Linked DNA regions of Homo sapiens: all the other regions are linked to region 3. Evidence: fine-mapped expression QTL. A gene starts in region 3. Each other region holds a variant in brackets. All regions are shown on one strand. Distances are between the middles of the regions.

Region 1 (4,000 bases), 140 kb after region 3:
AATAAGACTCAAAATTTGACTCTTAATAAGATATCTACCAGTCAAAGTACAGAATTCTTGATGGTCGGCTGCTTAGTTAAAATTTTGTTTAAGCTTTTCCTATAAAATTAGATTTAATCTGTGATTTTTTTTATCCAATGTTGGTTTAAAGTAATTAAGAATGATAATAATGATTTTTAAAACCCTGCAATTTCCTAAATGTACCATAATTAAATAAGTGTTGTGAGCATGAACTAAAAGAATTACACAGGTAATGTATTTGCATGTTTTACATTTAAGAGTACATTTTCCTTTACAAAACCCTTTTTTGGGTCCCTCTCATTTAATTTAATATTTTTCTTAAATGCATTTCTAATGATTTCAGGAATATATCCACCCCCACCTCTTGTGTTTCTAATGGATTCTTTTTACCCATTTACTCAACTTTTGTTTTCTTTCAAAATTTTAGAGTTTGATAGTTTTAATCCATTTCTTTATTCTTGAAATGGCAAAACCTCCTGGTGCTCATTTACTTCAACAGATTAGGATGAGGCTGGCTTAATTACTGAAGTGTCTAAATAATATTTTGCATGTATGGTTTTTCTTCTTATGCATATTTAACAGTAACAATTATGCTAAAAAAGCATTTTGACAGAAAGACTGGCTTTAATGATGTTTTGTAGTTGGTATGTTAATTTTCAGTACGTAAATGGATGTTTTAATCATTGTAAGGGTACTAATTTTTTATGTTACTATTTTATTTAGAAAACTTTACGGATGGTGAAAAGCAAATTAGTCCTCTTAAAAATTACCACAGATTCTGAGTTCTAATTAAATCTGATTTTATTACAACTTTCTTAAATAAAAGAAAAATTAATAATACAATTGAAGGACTAAGTAAATATGGCATTAAAAAGCCTACGACGATAAGCTTGATTATTTGTTAGCTACCCAAGAGCAGAATAAGAGAAAACCCTTCACTTTTCTCCACTATTCTACGTCCCTCACTGACACCCAGGAAACCTTAGATACCAGGTAGTTAGTCCCATCAGTACATTCCCCAAATGGGAGCTGCATAACCCCATGCATTCCTAGAACTGGGTGGCTGCCTGTGGTAAACTTTCATTCTCTAAGTGGAAATGAGCAGGCAGCTTCATAGGTAGTCAAGCAGAAAGATTCTCAAAGCTATAATTGGTTAGAAATAACCAACCTGAAGATCAGTAATTTCCTTGTAGAAAGGAAAAAGTTATTATTTTAATATTTTCCAAACAGCACATATTTTAGAAGACAAAAATAATGATGTAAATATCTTGTTTCTGTTGCCTGACGTAAAATTTCAGCACCAATTATTTAATTTTATATTTATGCATTCCAATTATTTCAGAAAGAATTAACTAATTATGGATTTTTTCCTAATTATGAAATTTTAATATATAATAGATATGATAAAGTTTTCTTCATTTCAATAAATTTTCTTCATTGAGAAAGGATAACCAAATAAAACAGCAGAAAGAGAAAATTAACTGATGAAACTAAAAATAATAAAATTAAGAAAAATGTATGAAAAGAATAATAAATCCAAAAGCCAATATTTTTAAATGCTAATAAAATAAATCACTTGTGAGTCAGAGTTAAGACAAAAAATAGAGAGCATGCTAAACTATACAAGCTTAGAAATAAGAAAGGAATTATAAACAGAATATAGAAGAGATAAAAAGAACTGTAGGACATTACTACCTTTAGTAATAATAAAACAAGTTGAAACTGATTTCCTAGAAAAATACAAATTACTGAAATAACCTACAAAGTACTTCTAAGTAGTAGTAGTGAAACTTGGATATACCAAGTACTCTAAAAGAGAGTGGAAAAATAATTGAAGATTTACCAGGTCCAGTTTCACAGCTAAATTCTTTCTAACCTTTAAAGAACTGATACTT[A/C]CAATATTACTTAAACTATTCTAAACAACTCATAAAGTTCTCAATTTATATTATAAATATAGTATAACCTTAAAACAAGTAGAAAAAGAACCATATACAAATCTCATTTATACACACAGATTTTAAATTCTTCTTTTATTGATCCACAATAGATGTATTTTCAGAGTACATAGGATAAATTAGTACATTTAAATAATTTGTAGAGATCAAATCAGTGTACTTGAGGTATCATCACCTTAAATATTTGTCTTTTCTTTATGCTAGAAACAAAATTATTCTCTTTTGGCTATTTTGAAATGTATAATAGATCATACATATATGTTACCTAGTGTTGAACAATAGGTAATATTTCCAAACACTATACTTGTACCCGTTAACCAACTTCTCTTCATTCTCCCTTCCTCCCTATCCTTCTTAGCCTCTGGTAACCACCAATTTACTTTCTATCTTCATAAGATCCACATTTTCAGCTCCCACATATGAGTGAGAACATGCAATATTTGTCTTTCTGTGCTTCGCTTATTTCACTTAACATAATGACCTCTAGCAGTTTCATCCATTTGCTACAACTGACAGGATTTTATTTTTTATTTTTTATTTTTTCTGGCTGAATAATATTCCATTGTGTATATATACCACATTTCTTAATCCATTCGTCCACTGATAAGCACTTAAGTTGATTCTACATTTTGACTATTGAAAATAATGCTGCAATAAACACAGGAGTGCAGGTATCTCTTTTATATATTGATTCCTTTCTTTTGGATATATACCCAGTAGTGGAATTGCTGGACCATATCATAGTTTTAGTTTTAGTTTTTTGAGGAAACTTTATACTGTTCTCCATAGGTGCTATACTAATTTACATTCCCACCAACAGTGTATGAGGGTTCCCCTTCGTCCAAATCCTTGCCAGCATCCATTATTACCTGTCTTTTTAAATAAAAGTCATTTTAACTGGAATGTGATGATATCTGATTGCGGTTTTGATTTGCGTTTCTCTGATGATTAGTGATACTGAATTTTTTTTCATATACCTGTTGGCCATCTGTATGTCTTCTTTTGAGAAATGTCTATTCAGATCTTTTGGCCATTATTAAATCAAATTATTTTTTTTTACTATTGAGTTTTTTGAGCTCCTTATATATTTTGGTTATTAATTCCTTGTCATATGGATAGTTTGCAAATATTTTCTTGCATTCTGTGGGTCATCTTTTCACTTTGTTGATTCTTTTCTTTGCTGTGCAGAAGCTTTTCAGCTTGATATGATCCCACTTACCTATTTTTCCTTTGATTGCCTGTATTTTTGAGAACTTACACAAAAAAATCTTTGCTCAGACTAAAGTCATGGAGTATTTCCCTAATGTCTTCTTTTAGTAGTTTCATAGTTTCCTGTCTTAGATTTAAGTCTTCAATCAATTTTTATTTGATTTTTGTTTGGTGAGAGATAGGAGTCTAGTTTTATTCTTCTACACGTAATTACCAGTTTTCCCAGCACCATTTATTGAAGAGGCTGTCCTTTCCCTATTGTATATTCTTGAAAATACATTATTTTCAATATATCTAATTTTAGTCATTCTAGTGGGTGTGAAGTGGTATCTCATTGTGGTTATCGAAGATTAATTGGCTGTAAATGCATTGGTTTATATCTGGGTTCTCTATTCTGTTCCATTGGTCTATGTGTCTGTTTTTATGCCAGTCCCATGTTGATTTGGTTACTATAGCTTTGTAGTATATTTTGAAGTCAGGTAGTATACTGTCTCCATCTTTGTTCTTTCTACTTAGGATTTCTTTGGCTATTCAGGGTCTTCTGTGTTTGCATATAAATTTTAGAATAGTTTTTTTTCTATTTCTTTGAAGAATGTCATTGGCATTTTGATAGGGATCACACTGAATCTGTAAATCGCTGTGAGTAGTATTGTCATTTTAATAATATTAACTCTTCCAATACATGAGAATGGAATATCTTTCCATTTTTTTATCCTCTTCAATTTCTTTCATCAGAGATATATAGTTTTCCTTGTATATATCTTTCACTTCTTTGGTTAAATTGATTCTTAGGTATTTCATATTCTCTGTAGTTA
Region 2 (4,000 bases), 63 kb after region 3:
TGCTGGCATGCAGACCCGTCATCACAAGCTACCGGAAGACAGAGGGGCTTGCAGCAGAGTGTCAGCCAGCTCTGCACTGAGCACGTGCCACTGACAGTTTTTCCCTGGCCAAATATTCCCGAGGAAGGAAGCAGTGCGTTCGCTTATGTTCTGGCACAAATGCCTCTGTCTTCTCACAGTTGACCTTCTTGACTGTCTTGGTCCCCACGACAGCACGTTCTCTTTTGCCTCACTCCTTTTCTCTGAGTACCCCATGCTTGCTCTTCCCCTTCCTGCCCTGTAGCTGTCAGGGTGAAAGGACTCAGTCCTGGGCCCTTTCTCTGCCTGCCTTGGACATGATCTCTCTTAATCCAATAGTTGATGACTTCCAAATACAGATCTTCAGCCCAGACCCAGCTCCTGACTCATTTATCCAATTGCCTCCTTGATATTATTTCCATGACGATGTCTAAGAAGCATCCTCACATGCAGAGCACTCAATGCGCTTCTTGAGTCCGCCCTTCCCCAGTGCCCATGCCCTCCCTGGCTCAGGCCACTCTGCCCTCTGCCTGGTGCTCTTCCCAGCTTTTTTCCTGGTTGGTCCCTTTTCACCATAGGGTCCCCTCCCCAGTCGTTATCTCAGAGATGCTTTCCCTTGCTGCCCCAGCTCACAGGTGAGTGAGAGCAGAGACGCTGCTCCTCCTGAAGCCTGATGAAGTACCCAGGATTCAGACGGGCATGTTTGCCCTTTAAATCCTGACCAGACCGGCCCTGGCCCCAGCAGCTTGAGGCTTTTTTCCATGCCTCCAGGAACTTCTGAATGCATCTTACAAATGTTGAGAACTGGTCATTGTGGAGGCTGGGGCCTTTGAATGTCAACTACACTTGTGTGGGTGGATGCAGACAGCAGCATGAAGTGCAGGAGGGAAGTCAGGCCCAGCACTGCTAGCCAGCCAGCCAGGGCATGGCTAGCCCCAGGCCTGGGGTGCCACCTGCCAGTCCTGTGAGGAATTTGGGAGAGACAGCAGCGGGCTCCGACAGGCCATTAGCTCCACAAGGAAATGGCCACGAATCAGAGTGCTGCTAATGGCTTGTTTCTTTTTAAACAATTTTTTTGAGGCCGTGTCGGAGAGAATAGGCTGCCATTTGCAGCTTTGAACAGGAATGCTGTCCATTGCTCTGTTAGAAGCCATGGGGTATTTACAAACTGGGTGACTGTTGGCAAGACATTTTTCCCCTTTGCTCCTTGGTTTCCTCCCTTCCGTGATGGGGATAATAAAGCCTGTCTGTCTGACTCACAGGGCCGTTGGGGTGTGTTCCAGGTGTTGGTATGTCAGCTAGCACGAATTCGCCGCCCGCTCTGTGCCAAGCCCTGAGTTATACAGCTTCCTACTCCATCCTCACCACGGTCCCGCGAAGGTGGGCATCACTCAAGGCTGCAGTCAGGCTTAGAGGAGCTCAGTGCACCCGTCCCTGGGCCGCCCACGGGTATGGGTGGAGATGTCTCAGCCCACCTGTACCGCGTCCCTGCGGGCGGGCAGAGCTCTGGGTACAGATGCATTTGTTTTCCAGATTCTCACAGTCATCCTTTAAGACAAGCTGTTCTCATTGTTCAGATGATGGCATGGAGGCCTAGTGGAGTTAAGTGACTTGCTCAAAGCCATTTAGCCTGTAAGTGATTGGTCCTGGATTTGAAGGCAAGTCTGCCTGGAAGTCCTTTGGAAGACTTGAAAAGGAGAATTGGTAAAGCCAGGGGTTCCTATACCTTTCAGGCCTTAAGAAAGTAATAGTAGGTGTTTTTTTTTTTCTCTCTGTTCCTTATTTCATGAAGGAAATTATACATTTGCCCAAATGGCGCTTCCCTTAATATTTGCTGAACCTTAATGTTTGCTTTTGATTGGCATTATGCCATCCTAGCACAATAATATTTGTCATCTCATACCTTAGGAAACTCTGCCTGATTTTGAATGATACAAAAAA[G/C]GTTTTGGGGTCTAAATGGAGTGAGAGGAATGGTAAGAGATTAAGTATCCCTCATAAAAACAGGATGGTGTCAGTAAGACCTTTCCCAACTCTGAGTTCACATTCTACCACCTCGGTCACTTAGGTGTAAATGTCATCTTCCTCCTCAAGATGATGACAGGCCACCCACTACCCTGGGACAAAACAGGGCAGACAGTATACAGCATAGGTCCCTCTGCTAGAGGAACATTGGTATTCAGTGCTCTTCTGCTTCCAAGAACCCCTCACTCCATGCTACTCTCCGAGAATATTGTAATGGACATCTGCCTTTGATATAGCCCTGATACCCAACCCCACTCCGTCACTGTGTTTGAAAAGTACTCTTCCTGCTGTACAAATTGGAAGGCTAGGCTGTGGGCATATGGGCCGGGGCTTGGCTAGTCACACATGCATGGAAGCTGGTGATGCAGAATGCTGGGGGGTGGCGAGTTCATCTGGAGACTGTGCCAGCAGCCACATCTAGTTTTTGGGGGTGGTCATGGTGGCTCGGCACCTCCTGCTCCAGTGCCCATGTCCAGTGCTGACGGTGGTGATGCAGGCTCTGGCATCCTCACACTGGGAGTGTGAGTTGGGCTCCAGTTATGGCAGCACAGCATAATGTCCTGCCCATTTTCTGAGCCTGGTTCTTTGGCTTTTCTGGGAATCAGTGAGATGCCAAAGGCCTTTAAGTAAACTCGATTTAAATCAGCTGAAGTCTGCTTCATCTGCTTAAAGCTAAGAAGCCGACTTTTATAGAGATGTTCCTCTGTAGTTATCCAAACATTTGTATTCATTCTTCTGGCCCCTGAAAGTTCTACTTCACCTGTTAGGCACCTCCGTGAGCTACAGAATTAACAGGAGAATCCCAGGTTGAGTGGGTGGCAGGACTGTGGGCTCAGCCGTCTCCCTTCATTATTACTGTGACCCGGGTCTCCATCATGCCCCCTAGACGGTGACCTCTGTGGGGACACAACTGAGTCCTTCATCTCTATCCTCAGCTCCTTGAGTAATGCTTGGCACACGGTGGGTGCTTGGGAAGGTTTGGATGAATGGGCCAAGGAACCAACAAAGAGATGAGAGAAGTTGATGCCTGTGGGCTCTCTGCAGCCTTAATGAGGCTGGCCTGGCTTGGGCAGGAAGGGGGCTACGTGCCTGGAGACTGCAGGCTGCCTGCAGTTCCATGCTGGAGATGGGCTGGGGAGATCATGGAACTTAGAGCAGGAAAGCAAGTAGCTAGAGCCACGAAAGGGAGAGCCGCTCCTCTGAGTGGAGGCGGCGTAGTTGGTGCTTCCCAATCCTTTCACCTCATGGCATGTACAGAACACAGTATTATTTGTCTGGTACCCAGGGCTTTGTCCAGCTGGCGCTGGAGCGGAGGCCCCTCTCACAGCACACCGGTGACCCAGTGCCCACTACTTAGAGCGCTGATCCCAAGAGAACTTAGAGCCTGGTGTGGCCTCTGTTCTTAGCCCTTTGTCATGTAAGTTGCAGATATTTTTCCTAGTTGTGTATTTGCCTTTAAGTGATTTATTTTTTCTTCTATTTGGTTTATTCTCTACTATCACAGTTGTTCTCTCTACAGGAGGTTCCAGCCTTGGCAAGAGGAGTGTGGCCCTTCCTGGAATCCCTCTGGACACACCCTCCTAGCATCCTCTAGGAAAGATGCGGCAGCTCAAAGGGAAGCCCAAGAAGGAGACCTCCAAGGACAAGAAGGAGCGGAAGCAAGCCATGCAGGAGGCCCGGCAGCAGATCACTACAGTGGTGCTGCCCACGCTGGCCGTGGTCGTGCTCTTGATCGTGGTGTTTGTGTACGTGGCCACGCGCCCCACCATCACCGAGTGAGCCCCGCAGCCGGCTGCGGACCCCATCGGCAGGGAGAGGAGGCGCGGGAGGGGGACGCAAACAAAAAATGGCTTTCATATTCAGAGATGTTCATGTTGCTGAGCTGTAAGCAGGAGCACCCTGTCTTCTCTGGTCTTTGACTTGATTAAAGTATCTCCGCTTTCTTGGGAGGGAATAGGGG
Region 3 (4,000 bases):
TCATATTTGTTCATGTCCCAGTAGCTAAAGGAAGTCACAAGGCCAACTCCAGGGTCAACGTGGGAGGGAGCTACAGAAGGACAACTCAGTAGGGGTGATTCATTAGAAGCCATTAGTGTAAAATGTGTAAACTTTTCCTCTGAGACTTGCATTGCAAGATACACAACTCTAACCTATAAAGGATGACACTTTCTTTTTCTTTTCTCTCTCTCTCTCTTTTTTTTTTTTTTTTTTTTTGAGACAGAGTTTCACTCTTGTTGCCCAGGCTGGAGTGCAGTGGCATGATCTCAGCTCACTACAACCTCCGCCTTCTGGGTTCAGGTGATTCTCCTGCCTCAGGCCTCCCAAGTAGCTGGGATTATAGGTGCCTGCCACCACGCCCAGCTAGTTTTTGTATTTTCAGTAGAGACGGGGTTCATCGTGTTGGCCAGGTTGATCCCGAACTCCTGACCTCAGGTGATCCACCCACCTCGGCCTCCCAAAGTGCAGGGATTACAGGGGTAAGCCACCACGCCCAGCCAAGGATGGCACTTTCACAGACACAATATCTATGTTATTACTACTATAAGGGAGCATGTGGAGTCACCTTATTAAGGGACTGAGTCCTACATCAGTGGCTCTGCTTGCCTCATAAAATTATTCATTAATTTTTAGCAGTGGCCTTGGGAAGTTGTGTACATAATATTTAGAGGAAAATGGCATTTACAATGATAATGAATTAAAGCAATTCACACGGCAGTACCACTGCCCCAATTTAAACCTTGAGGCTTGCTAATTTCATATTTAGCTGCATCCCATATGCTCCCAATCCCTCTGCCCTAGTGTGGAGCTACAGCTCAAACTCCTTTGAAGGTAGGAAACTTACCTCACACACGCGTGTTCCCCTCATTCTTTCAGCGCATAGAACACTAAAAAGATGCTCCTTAAATACATGCTAAATAAACTGATCAATAGTTGCCTTTTATTAAATATCTTTGTGTTTCAGGTATTTCCTTATTTCCTTCACAGACCGGATCATGAATGATCTCCCAATGTGACAAGGTCTTATTCTCCACAGTTTACCGTTGAGGGGACTGAGGTGCAGAAAGCCCAAGGTGTATGCAGCCCAATCCCCTCTGATCCCACTCTACTGCATTGCTGCCTTTTGTACGCAGCAGGAAGGACACTTCCTGTAAAAATGAAAAAAAAAGCCTTAAGTTGTTTGAGAGAGGGTCAGGAAGAAAACAGGAAGAGCCAGTAGACTGCAGGTGCTTTCAAAGGGCTCCCTGTCTTTGACATCCCTAAAATAAAAACTTGTTAATTAAGAGATTGGCCACAGAAATCCAGGTGGAAAACCTGCAGAAGAGTGGGTTCCACAATTCTTCAAAACAGAACAAAAAAACCCCAAGACTTGTTATATTTTTACCGGTGGAGGGGAAGAGGTTACAGGAGTGGCCTTGCTCCCCGGGCTGGCCTTGCTGAGCAGGTGACAATACCACACATATAAAGGTTTTAAGGTGAAAAGGTAGTCAATATTTTACATTTCGAAGATAGTTTTTAAAATCACCTACTGCATCAGTAGTAATACAACAATAACTACCATTTACATACCACCGCACACATCGGGGCTGCGTAAAGAACTTTATAGTGCACCATCTCAATTAATTCTCACAACTCTGTGAAGTAGGTTTTATTATTCTTAATTTATAGACGTGTTCACTGTGGGCCAGGGAGATGAGCTTTCCCGCGATTGCCCAGCTTTTAAGAGGTAGATCTCAAACCTAAACGTGTTTGACCAAAAGCCCTGAATAACATTTAGCCGTGGGCCTCTTGCGGATTTGGCGCTGGTCCGAGGTGGGGAATTGTGAATCTCATTTATTTATGCTGAGCTGCGCACACATATGCACGTGTAAGTTACAAAAAACAAATCCAGGTCAGGATCTCTGTCCGCTTGAGGTTTCAAAGCCTACTTGGGTAGACAGCGGTAAAAGTCTCAACTCATTCATCTACTCGTTTGCTCTCTTCACAAGTATTTATTGCGCACTTCAGTATTCCAGACAGGGCGCTAACCTTGCCCTGGAGGAGAGAATGGTGAACACAACAGACATGGCGTTTGCCTCCAACTATCCCCTTTCCGATTCTGCTATCTCACGGGCGAGGCGTTCAAAGAAGCAGGAAATATATCAACAAGGGGGTGACTTAAGCACCCGCTGCGCGGGAGCCGGAGGAAGCGCGCTGAGCCTGCAGAGGTGGTCAGGGCGAACTTCCTGGAGGCAGCGGCAGCAGCAGGCCGGGCGAGAACCCAGGTCGCTCGGAAGCGACAGTCTGAGCCGGGAACGGGGAAGAGGGGGCGGGAGCCGAGGCCCGGGCGGGGGCAGCCAGCGAGTTAGGGTTAGGACGGGAGGATTCGGCTTCCCGGCGGCAGAGGGCGCCTGGCGCTGCGGTCTGGCGCGCCAGAGTCGCCCGCGCGGGCGCCGAGAGGAGAGGCGAGGCGGGGAGCGCAAGCGGCGGCGGCCACTGCCACGTATTCCCGGCAGTGGTGGCGGCGGCGGCGGCGGCGCCCGCGGGCAGGTGGGCTGGGAGCGGCGCGGCGGCGGCGGCGGCGGGGCGGGCGAGCCGGCGGGCGGGCGCGGGGCACGGGGCACCGGGCACCGGGCGGGGGTGCGGCGCCGGGACAGTACGGTTCCCGCCACGCCGGCTCCGCCTCCGCGCAGTGCTGCTGACCCAGGCCTGGGCGCCCGGCGGGTCCCGAGCGCAACTCGTGCGGGCGGGGTTGGGGGCCCGAGGGACTCGAGCTCGCCTGCCCGTCGCGGCTCGAGACGCTGCATCCCGGTTGCTGCGGGGCGGGGGCTGGGAAAAGTTGGGGCGGACCGCGAGCCCGCGGGGCCGGGCGGGAAGTGCGGGTGCGGGGCGGACTCAGGGGCCGGGGGACGCAGTGCAAAGGGCTTGGGCCGGGGCGGCCGGGAGGGCCCCGTATGGGAAGGTGGGAAACGCGGGTCCTTTGAGGACGCCGAGAAAGGGGTGCGCTCAGGGTCTCTGGGAGTGGACAAGAGTCCGGCGGCGGACCTTGCGGGTGAGAAGGGTCGGCGCCTGGGGGTCGGGGAGTAGAGGTGAGGCGGGGGCGGGATAGAGCCTTCCTCCTCCCCCGTTCTTTCGGGACCGACCCTGAGACCCGGGGCAGGCTCCGAGCTGGGTACGCCTCTGGCATCTGAAGACCCAGTGGGGAGTTCCTGTACGGGGTGGGTGGAGGAGGGAGCTGAGCGTTGCTTCCTCTGCTGCTGGGGCCGACTACCGCCCCTCCCCAGCGGCCAGATTCACCTCAGACTGCAGTGCTTTTGCCCTGAGGAAGTTGAGGAGGGACAGCTGAGCGGATGAGATGTTTGGGGTGTTCCAAGATGAGTGGGATTAGGCTGCATGATATCATAACTATCTCCGGGAGCTGTCAGAAAACACTCCCATGTCCTCATACACCCACCCATCCACTCATCCAGTCAGTACTGCCAAGCTCCAGGCTCCCTTGCTCTTTAAGTGACACCTCTAGATCCCCAGAGCCCAACAGCGCATCTGCTCACAGCCTCGAGGGTGGCAAGGGTGGAAGACATGGCCTGCTAGTGTCTGCGTAGGTTGGTGCTTTCAGAAACAAGTGGTTCTGGAGGTGCTGGATGCTTTATTAGAACAACCTGTGTGGAGCCCGTTGACAATGCAGATGACTCATGTTGGCTTTTTTTTTTTCCCCTTTACAAATAAACTTTGTATTCAAGACACCAGTATGCCTGGTCATTTGCAGCAGTGATACGGCAAGAGACCCATAGTGGGCTTCTTGAGCCCTTATTCTCGTCCTAGATGTGTTAGCAAGAAGTTTGACCTTGGATGAGTCACTTGCTCTCTCTGGACTTCTGTTTTCTTATCTGTCACATGGGGTATAAAGAGAGAGCTCGACAGTGTGATGTAGACAGGAGTAGGTTTCTGAGGGACACAGTGAAATCTTTTTTCTTGTAAGGCTGGATCAGCCACAGAAAAT
Region 4 (4,000 bases), 46 kb after region 3:
TTCCTTCACCTTCCGCGTTTGTTTCTTTTCTAATCCCAAACCTGTATCCTTCATTTTTAAATCAGTGATTTTTGATTGCAGGGAACAGCCATGGTCTCATGGCGGCTTAAGTTAGCAGCGAGTTTGTTGTAGAAATCCCAGGAATACAGGAAGCAAAGCTTGACTGCCTGCTGGGCACAGGAGTGGGAAGGCCCCTCTAACTCCATGCAGGGGCTGCTTGGTCCTGTCCATCACGCACATGCACACATGTGCCAGTGTATCTGTCTGTCTGCCCTTCTGGAGCAGGGCGGTGACAAGTGTCTATCCCTAAGCCAGTTGGGAGAGGGGAACCGTGTGACTGCCCTCTCAGCATGGGCTGAGGGGGTTCCAAAAAAGGAGTCTGTGGAGGGATACCTCCCCAGCAGCTATTATACCCTTTCTTCTAATTTCTCAACAGGAATAACTCAAGTCACCTGTACTGGAAATCAGTTTGCTGAAATTAATCAACGATTCTTGAAGTTGAAGAAAAGGTAAACATTCTCTTATAAGGGAAACTCATTGTCTGGGGAGAGGTTACTGTCCCAGTCATTTCTCTCATATGCCTAGTTTTGTGTGTAATATTTTACCCCTTCTCTCTGCCTGGCCAAGTTCCTCTTCATCCCTCAAGATCTTTATCAAATGCCACCTTTGTCCTTTGTGGAGGATCTCCTCCAGGCTGCGGGTGATTTCTCCTGCTGTTGAACCCCCACGACACTTTCTCCTTCCTGTGATGTTTGTGTTCTCGTTTGCCCTTCCCCTGATGGTCTCACCCTTCCTCTCTTGGCCAGTCGGGTAGAGGTCTGTGACACACCCCCCATCATAGTACTTACTTCCACGCTTTATTCTCGTTGCCTGTTTTTGTGTTTTCCCCAGTAAGCTGCTTAAGGGTGCATCTGAGTTGTGCCTGGGACACAGTCGGTATTCCATAAATGTTTCTCGAATGACTCATGAAGGAGCCTCTCCACAAGAGGCCTGCTCCTGTGTGGACCCACATTGTACCCCCACCACGCCTCCCTTACTGGGCCTGTACTAGGAATCATTCTTAAATACATTATGATCTTTGAGCATTCATCCGAAATTCCTGATCTTCGCCAGGTGTCCTTTGGCTATTGGTGAAATGAAGCTAATAGCAAAGCTTTTGTATCTGATACTTTTTTTTCACATTTGATTTTGGACCCATGTTAAGAGCAGGAATCCAGAAGTGGGGAGGGAGGTGACAGGCAGAGCTGGATGCCAGTGGTCACTGGAGCACAGCTCCCCAGCCCCCTTCTCCGCTTGTGGCGGGTGTGAGTGGGGGTTGCATGTGGGGGGCTTTAGGTCTCGCTGTGGTTGTAGCCCCTCCTATCTGCTGCACAGGTGGATCACCTTCTCCATCTGTGCCATGCTCTCGACTGCTTCACTCAGTGACTTTGTGTCTTAACCCACCTCCCTGCCCCCAACCTTTGTCCTTTAAATGAATAAGTCAGCAGGTTCCTTTTCTCAAACTGTTTACTGTAACTGCTAAAGATCCCATAAAAGTTTCTTATTAATTTTATGAGTTTATGCATCATAGCCAGAGGGACAAAGCATAGATTGTGGGTGTTCCCAGAGATACAAATTTCCAGAGATTGTTTTGCGTATTCATCTGCACATTGTTGTCTGGGTTTGACGTGTATTGGGCTTCAGTGTGAGGCTTTTAATATGTATATCCTGTTATCAATTAAGAAATTATCCAAGTGGTTGAATCCTGTGAGACTTCGCAAGTGTGTGCAAATCTAGTATACTTGACTTTTCAACCTCTTCTTTCAATGTAACTTTTATACAAAATAAATAATCAACTGACAGTTCTCAAAAAAAAGAAAATCAGTTTAATTGGTCACCATCATCTTGGAAGACTTGACTCAGCCCTTTCTGCCTAACAGTAACCAGCAACTGTCTCTCACATTTGTAGAGTGCTTTCTCTTTTGCAAGGTGCTTTGACACACGTCGGCAGATTTTCTTCTCCCACCAGTCCTGGGAAGCAGGCAGAGGCAAGTGGTAACTTCTCATTTTCAAAGTTGGGAAATAAGCTCAGAAGTTCAATGTCTTGCATAACATCATGAACTGATGTGAATGGGGTTCAGTTCCCCCCAACCATCTGATCTTGGTACC[C/A]CCCTTTGGAAGCCATGGCAAACTAACAGTGTCACAGAACCGTCTCTACCCTCAGTGTTCCTTTGAGGGAGGGGAGTCTTGACCTTCTGTTGAGAGTCTGACCCTGGTGCTCCCTCCACCCTCAGCCAGGCAGCTTTCTTGAAAAAGCAGATATGTTCCTCCTGAGACCTTCCAGTCAGTCTTGAAAGTTTTGTTTTTGTTAAGGCTAATTTAAATACAAGAAATTTAATTAGCTTACATGAATGCTGCATTGTCTTACTCTGAGTAAACTGGAAGACACTAACAGGTTTGATCAGCTTAATTCAGCTGTATCTGATGATGTTCTTTCGCTTCCTTCTCTTTTAAATCATTGCAAATGGTTTCTATCAGTCAAGGCAGCAGAGCACAGTGCTTTATTGCCATGTGGAATTGTTTAGTTAACTGTGATTTTTAAAAAATTGCTCAACTTTTAATGAAAGTGGATTGTCAGGTGACATTTTGATTTGTCCTTTGATGGGGAAATGGGAAAATAGAACCATCATAATAAAAAACCAGCTTCTATTCTAGAAGGGGGGCTATTAAAAGCAGGATGTGATTTCAGTGAATTGTTGTTTTCCTAAAACAGGCCACCATCTCTGGTCTTTTTATGTTGAGAGACCTTCCTCTGATACTCTCTTAGATTAACATTTTCCTGTGGGAAATTCTAACCTGGAATCCCCCAAACAGGTTACTCCCCATAGTGTAAGCGTTGGGGCCCAGGACCAGATACCAACACCCTTTTACTGGGAATCTGAAGCATCAGTATCGAGAAATCTGCAAGCCTATCGTGATGCTTGTAATCAAAGGAAACAGGCTTCACATTTTACTTTTAGTTGTGGCATGATGCAAGCACCATTTTACTGTTAAGGTTATTGTTTTCTTAACCCCAAAGCTGGATCTGCATTAGTGAGGATCCTCATAGAGGCTACCCTCATGTGTCCTGGCTGAGTGGGGTTCCAGGTGCTCCTCAGTGGTTGTGCCCACCTTGAATTGGCACAGTGGCAGGACCTCCGACACCATGAGAGGATAGACAGGGGTCACCTCTGAGGCTGGCCCCAGGACTCCTCTGTGTTCTATAGCATTCTTACACCCTTTATGGCAGTTAGCAAACTTGGTATCTCATGGGCACCTCAAGCTTACTGTGTCCAGATTTTAACTCTTGGTCTACTTCTACCATAGTCCCTTTCTAGGCCTCCTCCCTTCCCCCATCTTATTAAGGTACGTAGTTGTTAACTCACTTTGTCAGGCCAGAAACTGGTACTTCATTTGTTAATACTCATCTTTTTCTTCCCCCAAATCACCAAATCCTAATGATGCCTCTCCTAAAGTACATCTTGAATTCATCCATGGCCTTCCTGTATCCGCCCCCCAAGTCCAAGCCAACATCGTCCTTTGCCAGGTGACTGCCAAAGCCTCTTAACTGACTGCCCTGCCTGCTTCCCCTTTTCTTCTATTCCTCTCATCAATTTGGACCCAGAGCAATCTTTAAAAATTCTTGTCAAATCATGTAATTCCCTTGCTTGAAACCTGTTGGTGACCTCATCCTGCACTTGATGAAACACATAAGCCCAGTGCAGCCCATGGAGTGGACTGCACTGTCTGGGCCCCAGGCCTGGCTACAGAGGCACAGCATTGTTGGCACCATGTTGTTGTAGCTTGTGAGACATTCTCCCCTTCACTCTTGACTTCCTAGGAAGATTGCAGTGACTTCAATTTTCCAAACGCAATAAAATAACTCAGGCTCTCAAAGGTGTACTTAGAATGAATATTGTGTTCTGGGAAATGGAACAAGGAGTGATTTGTTCCTCCAAACACCAGAATAACAACTCCTAGA
Region 5 (4,000 bases), 21 kb after region 3:
GGATGTGGGCCGCCCAGCCCAGGGAAGCATCTGTCTTTGTGGAACTGGAGTTATGTTTTATGATGTCACTCTGGTGTGACTGGATCACAGAATTCTGAGTTTATACCCTTTGTTGGATTTTTTTCCTGTTTCACTATTTTTCTGTGGGTCCTTGCCCAAGACCTTGGATGAGTGCAGTGAGCAGGCGAGATCTGTGAGTTAACATAGGTGGGGAACGCATTGGATGCACCACCTCCTCTGTGTGCACTGGCTGTTGACCCACCATTCCTCATCATCAGTACTCCGTGCCTTCCCTGCATTTTGGAGGACTAAGCACTTTTGTAGCGGGGAGTGTGTGTTTTGCCTTTCTCTTCAGTTTGTCCCCATAAGCTACTTCCAGGGGCCTGGCAGTAATGCTGCTGCTCCAGGTCATTTGTGTTTGTGGAGTGTCAGAGTTTTCAGGACTTTGCCCAGAAAGTCTTGTCCAGTGCTCCCAGGGAGTGGTCGTCATCATCTCCATTTTACAGATGGGGATTCTTAAGGGAAGTCACTCTTAGGTAGCATACTTCTATACCATAGCTTCCCCTGTAAGTTTCATAAAACACAACCGAGAAGATGCCTGTTTAAAATCAGCTTGTATTCCGAAAGTGAAAGAATGCCCTCTTCAAATGCCCTGGGGATCGTGTACACAGTAGGGTTCTCTTCTCCCTCAGGAATGTGTGGTCCCATCCTAGGTTCCCTCCCGGCCGTTTCCTGGCTTTGTGAGCCTGAGCTGGTTACTGAACCTTTCTGAGTCTGTGTCCTATAAATTGGTGATGATAGTACAATCTAAAAGAGGCTGTGGTAAGATATATATGAGATAGTGTATGTGAGATCACCCAGGCTCAATGTGTTGTAATCGCTTGTTTTTATTTTTCAACCAGGATGGCTTGAAGAAAATACAGATCTCAGCTACAGAGGTTGAGGCCTGAGAAACTCCCCTCCCCTGAAGGGCATTAGTAACTGATCTTCCCTGCACACTTCCTCCCCCAAAACAAGAAGGAGAGGATGAAGCTTAAAAACCCTGTTTCAGCTAGAATCTTTCCAAGGTTTTCTCATTCTTTTGGTTTTGGAATGGGGTGCTGATATATGCTTCATTTACTGGAAACCAAAACTAAGGAAGTCCATGTTAACCACACAGCCTCTCAGAAATGCCCAGTATTTTTAAAAATGAGGAAATGCCAAAACACGATTTTAGAAAGCGGGGTATTTTAAATTTACATATTGGACGTGTCAGCACTTTTAGCACACACACTTTCACTGATTGTATAATTATCTTGAAAAGACTTAAAAAACTAAATTTGAGGTTTTCTGGTCTCATTTCTTGCGGGGTCTTGCTCTGTTGCCCAGGCTAGAGTGCGGTGGCATGATCTCAGCTCACTGCAACCTCTGCCTCCCAGGCTCAGGCGATTCTCCTGTCTCTGCCTCCGGAATAGCTGGGACTACAGGCATGTGCCACCATGTCCAGCTAATTTTTTATATTCTTGGTAGAGATAGGGTTTTGCCATGTTACCCAGGCTGGTCTTGAACTCCTGAGCTCAAGCAATCCACCTGCCTTGGCCTCCCAGAGTGCTGGGATTACAGGCGTGAGCCACTATGCCCGGCGTGGTCTCACCTCTTCAAAGACCTAATCAGCGTCTAGTGGGTAAGTCTTTTTGTTTTTTTTGAGACAGGGTCTCACTCTGTAACCCAGGCTGGAGTGCAGTGGCGTGATCACAGCTCATCTCCTGAGCTCAGGAAATTCTCCTGAGTAGCTGGGACAGGCAATCCTCCTACCTCGGCCCTCCCAAAGTGCTGGGATTACAGGCATGAGCCACCGTGCTTGGCCAGCTCTTACATTTTTGGTCACCTAGTGACAGACCTTTTTTCCCTTCTCCTCTCTCTCCTTTCCACATTAGTTTTTATGTTTGAGCCTAGACAAGTATAGGGGAAATTCCAGAGGAACCAGCAAAGTGACCTGCAATTTTTGATCTTT[G/T]GGGTTTCCAATTTTGTGTATTTGCTGTGTGATCTTGAGCAATTCTCTTACTTCAGGTCTCAAGGAACTTAGCATCTCGTAGGGGAGATAGAACTGGAGTTGATAGCCCTCTTATTGCTGTGGCTACAGACAAGGATTCTTGTCCTCAGTGTGGTGGTAGTGGTTTTTAAGTCTTTATGTGTTATAAATTAGAAGTTTGCAAGGTGTGGTTTTTGACACTAAGGGAATTGCAAATGGGATCAAGGACTAGACTTCCCTGCATGAGACACTCTCTCATCAGACACTCTCTCATCAGACTCCCAGACTTATGTTATACCACCTGGTGCGGTCAGTTACAGTTACCTGTTTACCTGGCCACCTGCCTAGATTAACAGCAAGCTCTACAATGGCGGAGACTTGGCCTATGCCCTGTTATATCTTAGGCATCTTATTTATTGTACTTCCATGTGGAATACAACGGATGCCTGCATAAAAGATTTGAAGGATTTCGAATCACTTAACATGGTAGCAGGCCGAGGGGTGGAATTGGCTACCACAGGTCTTGTGTTGCGTAAACTGGTCGTGCCACATGACCAGACTTGTCTCCCTTCCTCCCATGCCCACAGCCCCTCTGCTGAGAAAGACAGAACCAGTACCAGGTAGGTCCCTTGTAAAAAGCCAGAGGGGTGAGTGGAATTATCTTCTGTTTTATAGACCAAGATCTGGAGAAGTCACATAGCTAACATGCCAGAGAGTCAGCATTTGAATGTGGGCCTGCAGGAGTCCACTTTTTATACCCTTCACAGATCGGATATGCTGGTGCATCTGCCCCTGAGGACATATTCAGCGATACAAATCCAATTAACCCGATAGCCCAAGAAACTTAAACTAGTCTGAGGAAGAACTTCCTGACATTTTGTTTTTGTTTTGTTTTAAAGTTTGTGCCAAAAAGGGGCTAGAGTTGGGGCTTTTCAAACTGTTAATCACAATCCACAGTCAGAGAATTGATTTAGTGGGTTGATACATTTTTAAATGAAATAGAACAGTGAAAAATAACAATGTGTGACACACAGTAAGGCTGTGTGTAGGTGCATCCCTCCCAGGCCATAATAGAAATACACTTCTGACTGTGGATCAATGATCAAAATATCTGAGAGAGATTATAGCTTCGATTGGTATTGGCTAGATTGCGAAGTCCTTGGCGGCAGGGATGTTCTCTCTTTTATGTTCCCTTCATCCTTAGTCCAGTACTGAGTACTTAGCTGATTGGTTGGTCTGTCTGGGAGAATTTGTAACAGTTCACCCCTCAGACTGGAAGAATAGTCAGAATGATGTTAAGGACAATTTGCAGAATACTGTCTCTGCAAGGAAATGACAGGTATTCTTACCCTTGCTTTATGAATGAGGAAAGCAGAAAGACACCGAGTGTGATAGTTAAGAGCTTGGGGTCTAAAGTCTGAGAAACCTGTGTTTGAATTCTGTTTGTGCAGTGTCATGGTTGTGTGACTTTGGGTAACTTTTTTAAGCCTGACTTTGTCCATCTTTAGGCAGGGTATGATGAGGGTACCTACCTCAGGTATTATGACAGTTAGATGAGTTAGCTCGAGTTTAGTGGCTTTAGCACAGTGCCTGGCATCTGATAAGCAGTTAGTAAGCATTATCTGCTGCCCTTCGTTTTATGATTAAGAGAGATTAAGTGACTCATGTTGGGTCCCAGGGCACCAGCTGGAGCCAGGCCCACTGCAGGAGCCCCTTCTAGAGTTGCAGATCTGTGATGGTTATTGATCTTGATCTAAACTTGTAGCTCTAATCTGTGGTTTGGCTGTGGCAGTGAAAGGAAGTGAATGTTGCAACAGAGCAGGTGTGTGCATACAAAGAGATGTCCTGGTTTTGCCAGTTAGAGAAAACAGCATCTTCCAGAGATATGGCTGCATGTGGAATCTGAGAATATAAATGACATTTCTTAGGAAAGCCAGGTGCTTTGTATTTTCATCAAAAACAACAGTTTCCTAAAACTGAATATAGCAA
Region 6 (4,000 bases), 34 kb after region 3:
AAACACTTCTAATACTAAACACTGAAGTAAATGGCAGCTATACCTACATTTAAGAAAAATTAATAAGAACAAGTGAGATCACTATTGACCCAGTTTTTGGTGGATCAGTGAGTGAGGGTGGTCATGTTTACAAAATGAAAATTACCAGGGTCATCTCCTCCTACCGTGCAGTTTAAAAACAATTACGAATATGGCAGCTCACTGAGCACTTTCAGACCACATTGTTAATGTCCTGCATTTGTATGATTATACTTTATGAATTTTTTTTTGACAATAATTTGTATTCATTCATTTATCCATTTTCTAACCTGCTTATTCCAGTGTAGAGTAGCATGTGGTTGGAGCCTCTCCCAGCAGCTCAGGGCACAAGGTGATAAGCACACCCTGCGTAGGACACAGTTTCATCCCAAGGTGCGCTCACATCCACTCCGATGGGGACCATTAGACACATAAGTGCCTAACTCCAACATCTTTGGGATGTTCAAGTTAGGTATTTGTAGAGGATGTAAGAGGAAACCAGAGTACCTGGAGAAAACCCACACAGACATGGAGAGAATGTGCAAACTCCACACAGACAGTGGCCCCAGCTGGGAATTGATTTTTTTTTTCTTTTTATCAACGTTATAATGCAATGATGCTATTTGAGGACCTGCTGTAGTTCCTTGCTGACTTCAGGGGCACAAAGGCTGGCCTGCATCAGTCCCTAGGGCAGCGTCTGGCATGACAGTCAGGGAAAACCTAACTGGGTGTTTGATTAGCTGTGGGAGGTGAAGGAAGGGAGGGGTCTCATTTTTGGCTGAATCGTCTATCCCTGTCAAAATAGTCCTTTCTTCTTCCTGTCTTACCTTTCTAGAAAGCATTTTTTTTTAATTGGACATGTTTATTTCTGTGGGTGGGTCAAAATCTTTTGAGTGGGCTTTTTGTTTTTGTCCCATTTTGAGACGGAGTCTTGCTCTGTCTCTCAGGCTGGAGTGCAGTGGTATAATCTTGGTTCACTGCATCCTCTGCCTCCTGGGTTTAAGTGATTCTCCTGCCTCAGTCTCCGCAGTAGCTGGGTATACAGGTGCCTGCCACCATACCTGGCTAATTTTTGTATTTTTAGTAGAGATGGGGTTTCACCATGTTGGCCAGGCTAGTCTTTAACTCCTGACCTCAAGTGATCCGCCCACCTCAGCATCCCAAAGTGCTTGGATTACAGGCATGAGCCACTGCAGTGGCCTGTTTTTGTCTTTTAATCTGTGGATCCCCAGTGTGCTGCTCTAACTAGATGAAGAGCTGCTGGCTTACATCTGTTGGGCAGGCCCTTAGTCCTTGTGGGCTGAGCAGTGTGGTAGTGAAGGAGTCCTGAGCCGCAGATCAAGAGGTGGAGGACCTGACTACACCACTTCTTTGCAATTCAGCCATGAGACAGCTTCCTGTTCCATAAAACTGTGGTGGGGTGCAGTGGGGTTGGGGGTGGGTGGTAACAGCATACAAGCCTACATCTGGGCTGCTTTCGACA[A/G]TTGGGAGATTGTGTAAAAGGTCCCTGGCATGGCAGTGTTGGCTGTTCAGGAAAAGTGACTGTTTTTTAAAAATCTCTTCTTTCTTGGATCTCCTTGTGCTTGGCAGTGTGCCTTTCCACTTAGATCCAGGCCTTGGTTGGTCAAGGGCAGTTTTTTCATCAGCAGAGTGACTGTAGCCCTAAGGCCAAAGCCATTCAAATTCCTTCTTAGGTTCACACATTGGTGATTGTTGAAACCTTGACATTTGAGCTTGGAGAGCTTTCTGGCCTAGGCTAGTGCAGTGACAACTGTAGGTCCCACTTTGGCCCTGCGGTCATAACTAGGGTGATACTAATTGCAGCTTTCATTTGTTGAGCATCTGCCCTTCACCAGACCTGTACTCAGAGTCCATGATGCTCACACCAACCTTGTCAAGTAGGTGGTGGACTCCCCATTTTATGCAAGAGGAAACTGTAGTCCAGAGAGTTTGAGAAACTTGACGCGGTCTCCTGTTTGGAGTTCTCTATAGGACCTCCTTCTCTTTTAGTTATAACTAGTCTTTTAATTGCTTTTTTAGTTTTATTCCAATAGGTTTTTGGGGAAGAGGTAGTGTTTGATTATATGAATAAGTTCTCTGATGGTGATTTCTGAGATTTTGGTGCACTGATCACCTGAGCAGTGTACACTATACTCAGTGTGTATCCTTTTATCCCTCACTCTGCTCCCATCCTTTCCCCACCAAGTCCCCAAAGTCCACTCTTATGCATCATTCTTATGCCTTTGCACCCATAGCTTAGCTCCCAATTATGAGTGAGAACATAGGATGTTTGGTTTTCCATTCCTGAGTTACTTCACTTAGAATAATGATCTCCAGTTCCGTCCAGGTTGCTGTAAATGCCATTATTTCATTCTTTATTATGACGCAGTAGTCTTTCGTGGTATATGTATAGCACAGTTTCTTTATCCACTCGTTGATTGATGGGCATTTGGGCTGGTTCCATATTTTTACAAATGCGAATTGTGCTGCTGTAAACATGCATGTGCAAGTATCTTTCTCATATAATGACTTCTTTTCCTCTGGGTAGATACTGGGATTGTGGGGTTGCTGGATAAAATGGTGGTCCTACTTTTAGTTCTTTAAGGAATCTCCACACTGTTTTCCATAGTGGTTGTACCAGTTTGCATTCCCATAATTGCTTTGACTTAGAAAATGATGGCTGTTTGTAAGCCCCTTGTGAGCAACTTTTTTTTTTTTTTTCCATTTTTGAGTCAGGGTCTCATTCTGTTGCTTAGCTAAAGTACAGCAGTGCAATCATAGCTCACTGCAGCCTTGAGCTTCTGGGTGCAAGCGATCCTCCTGCTTTGGCCTCCCGAGTATCTGAGACTATAGGCATATGCAACCATGCCCAGCTAACTTTTTTTTTTTTTGGTAGAGACAGGGTTTCACCATGTTGCCCAGGCTGGTCTCAAACTCCTGGGCTGAAGTAAATTGCCTACCTCCGCCTCCCAGAGTGTTGGGATTACAGGCATGGGCCACTGCACCTGGCCGTGAGCAATTTTTAATAGTTGTCTCTTGTCTCTTCTATATGGCCTCTGTTCTTAATTGGTATAACCCAGTTTTACCTAGATGAGGTCATTGCTCAGTGGGTCTGCTCGTCCAGGCTCTGCAGAGGTCTACTTTGCTCTGGAAGTGTTTCCTGCTCCTTCTTTTCCCACCTCCAGTGGTGGAGTGTGTGCTGATTGGATAGAGTCCATGCTCTGGAAATAGGAACCAATTTTCTCTCCTCACTACTTCTTTTTATTTCTAACTGCTTCTGTTCATCTTTTCTTGGCTGCATTCATTTTCCCTCTTTACTGCTGTAGTTTATTGCTCTTTGCTGACTCCTTTATTTTTATTTTCCAGACTTGCCTGAAATGCATCTTGATTCTGGCATCTTTAGATGTTTAAAGCCCTGCACTTTGTTACTAATGATTTCCCTCATTTTGCAGAATTCCATTCAGTTGCAGTTCTATTTGGCAAGACCCTGCTTTTCTTCTTTCTTAAATCATTACATTTTAATATTCTTCTCTTCCTGCTCTTTTATAGAAATTTGTATTTCATTTTTTAGGTTGTAATAATGGACCTTCAACGCCCTACAGTTTGACTTCTTATCATACTTACTTGTTTTCAGAATCATATGTTCATGGAGCAGAGGCACTTTTATGCTGTCCTTGCTTTTTCTAAAAGGCAAATCTGTCCATACCATTTTCGTACTCAGCACCCTTCATAGGCTCTTGAAGATCAGCTCTGAATGCCCCATCCCAGTGTTGGAGACCAGTGGTGTCCCCCTCCCTTCACCTGCCCGCTACGACACTAGCTCAGCAGTTCTCCACAATTGGTTTCAGGACCCCTTTATGTAACTCTTAAAAATTAGTGAGATTCCCCTAAGAGCTTTTGTTTGTATAGATTGTATCTAGTAATATTTACTGTGTTAGAAATTAAAATTAAAGAAATTTAAAAATATTTATAAACTTGTTTA

Which allele goes with the higher level. Alleles are on the strand shown, and positions count from the first base shown. SD is a standard deviation of normalised expression in the study named. Not every link is listed here.
For the expression in testis of the gene that starts at base 2,435 in region 3, C is the low allele of the variant in region 1 and A is the other (small effect, 0.18 SD a copy in GTEx).

The links. PIP is the estimated chance that this variant, and not a neighbour inherited with it, causes the effect. A credible set is the group of variants that fine-mapping cannot tell apart.
Region 1: its variant is the best candidate, but not a certain one, in a credible set for the expression of SMCO4 in testis (GTEx, PIP 0.65).
Region 2: its variant is the best candidate, but not a certain one, in a credible set for the expression of SMCO4 in whole blood (INTERVAL, PIP 0.80).
Region 4: its variant is the best candidate, but not a certain one, in a credible set for the expression of SMCO4 in whole blood (TOPMed, PIP 0.81).
Region 5: its variant is the best candidate, but not a certain one, in a credible set for the expression of SMCO4 in monocytes after LPS (Quach 2016, PIP 0.89).
Region 6: its variant is the best candidate, but not a certain one, in a credible set for the expression of SMCO4 in whole blood (INTERVAL, PIP 0.80).

Annotation. Positions count from the first base shown.
Region 1 is chr11:93,401,195-93,405,194 of GRCh38, reverse strand. The region is part of intron 11 of DEUP1 (deuterosome assembly protein 1); the gene reads right to left. Among named protein-coding and RNA genes, the nearest start is that of DEUP1, 72 kb to the right of the region's middle. The variant A/C (reference allele first, on the strand shown) is at 1,917.
Region 2 is chr11:93,478,829-93,482,828 of GRCh38, reverse strand. SMCO4 (single-pass membrane protein with coiled-coil domains 4) reads left to right here. Exons shown (of 3, transcript NM_020179.3): 3 at 3,560-4,000. The coding sequence starts at 3,640. The coding sequence ends at 3,819. Among named protein-coding and RNA genes, the nearest start is that of SMCO4, 63 kb to the left of the region's middle. The variant G/C (reference allele first, on the strand shown) is at 1,960.
Region 3 is chr11:93,541,826-93,545,825 of GRCh38, reverse strand. It overlaps SMCO4 (single-pass membrane protein with coiled-coil domains 4), which reads left to right and starts at 2,435. Exons shown (of 3, transcript NM_020179.3): 1 at 2,435-2,550. RefSeq lists silencers at 2,235-2,364, 2,525-2,574, 2,705-2,944.
Region 4 is chr11:93,495,785-93,499,784 of GRCh38, reverse strand. SMCO4 (single-pass membrane protein with coiled-coil domains 4) reads left to right here. Exons shown (of 3, transcript NM_020179.3): 2 at 437-509. Among named protein-coding and RNA genes, the nearest start is that of SMCO4, 46 kb to the left of the region's middle. The variant C/A (reference allele first, on the strand shown) is at 2,149.
Region 5 is chr11:93,521,000-93,524,999 of GRCh38, reverse strand. The region is part of intron 1 of SMCO4 (single-pass membrane protein with coiled-coil domains 4); the gene reads left to right. Among named protein-coding and RNA genes, the nearest start is that of SMCO4, 20 kb to the left of the region's middle. RefSeq lists an enhancer at 801-900. The variant G/T (reference allele first, on the strand shown) is at 1,994.
Region 6 is chr11:93,508,037-93,512,036 of GRCh38, reverse strand. All of the region lies in intron 1 of SMCO4 (single-pass membrane protein with coiled-coil domains 4), which reads left to right. Among named protein-coding and RNA genes, the nearest start is that of SMCO4, 33 kb to the left of the region's middle. The variant A/G (reference allele first, on the strand shown) is at 1,502.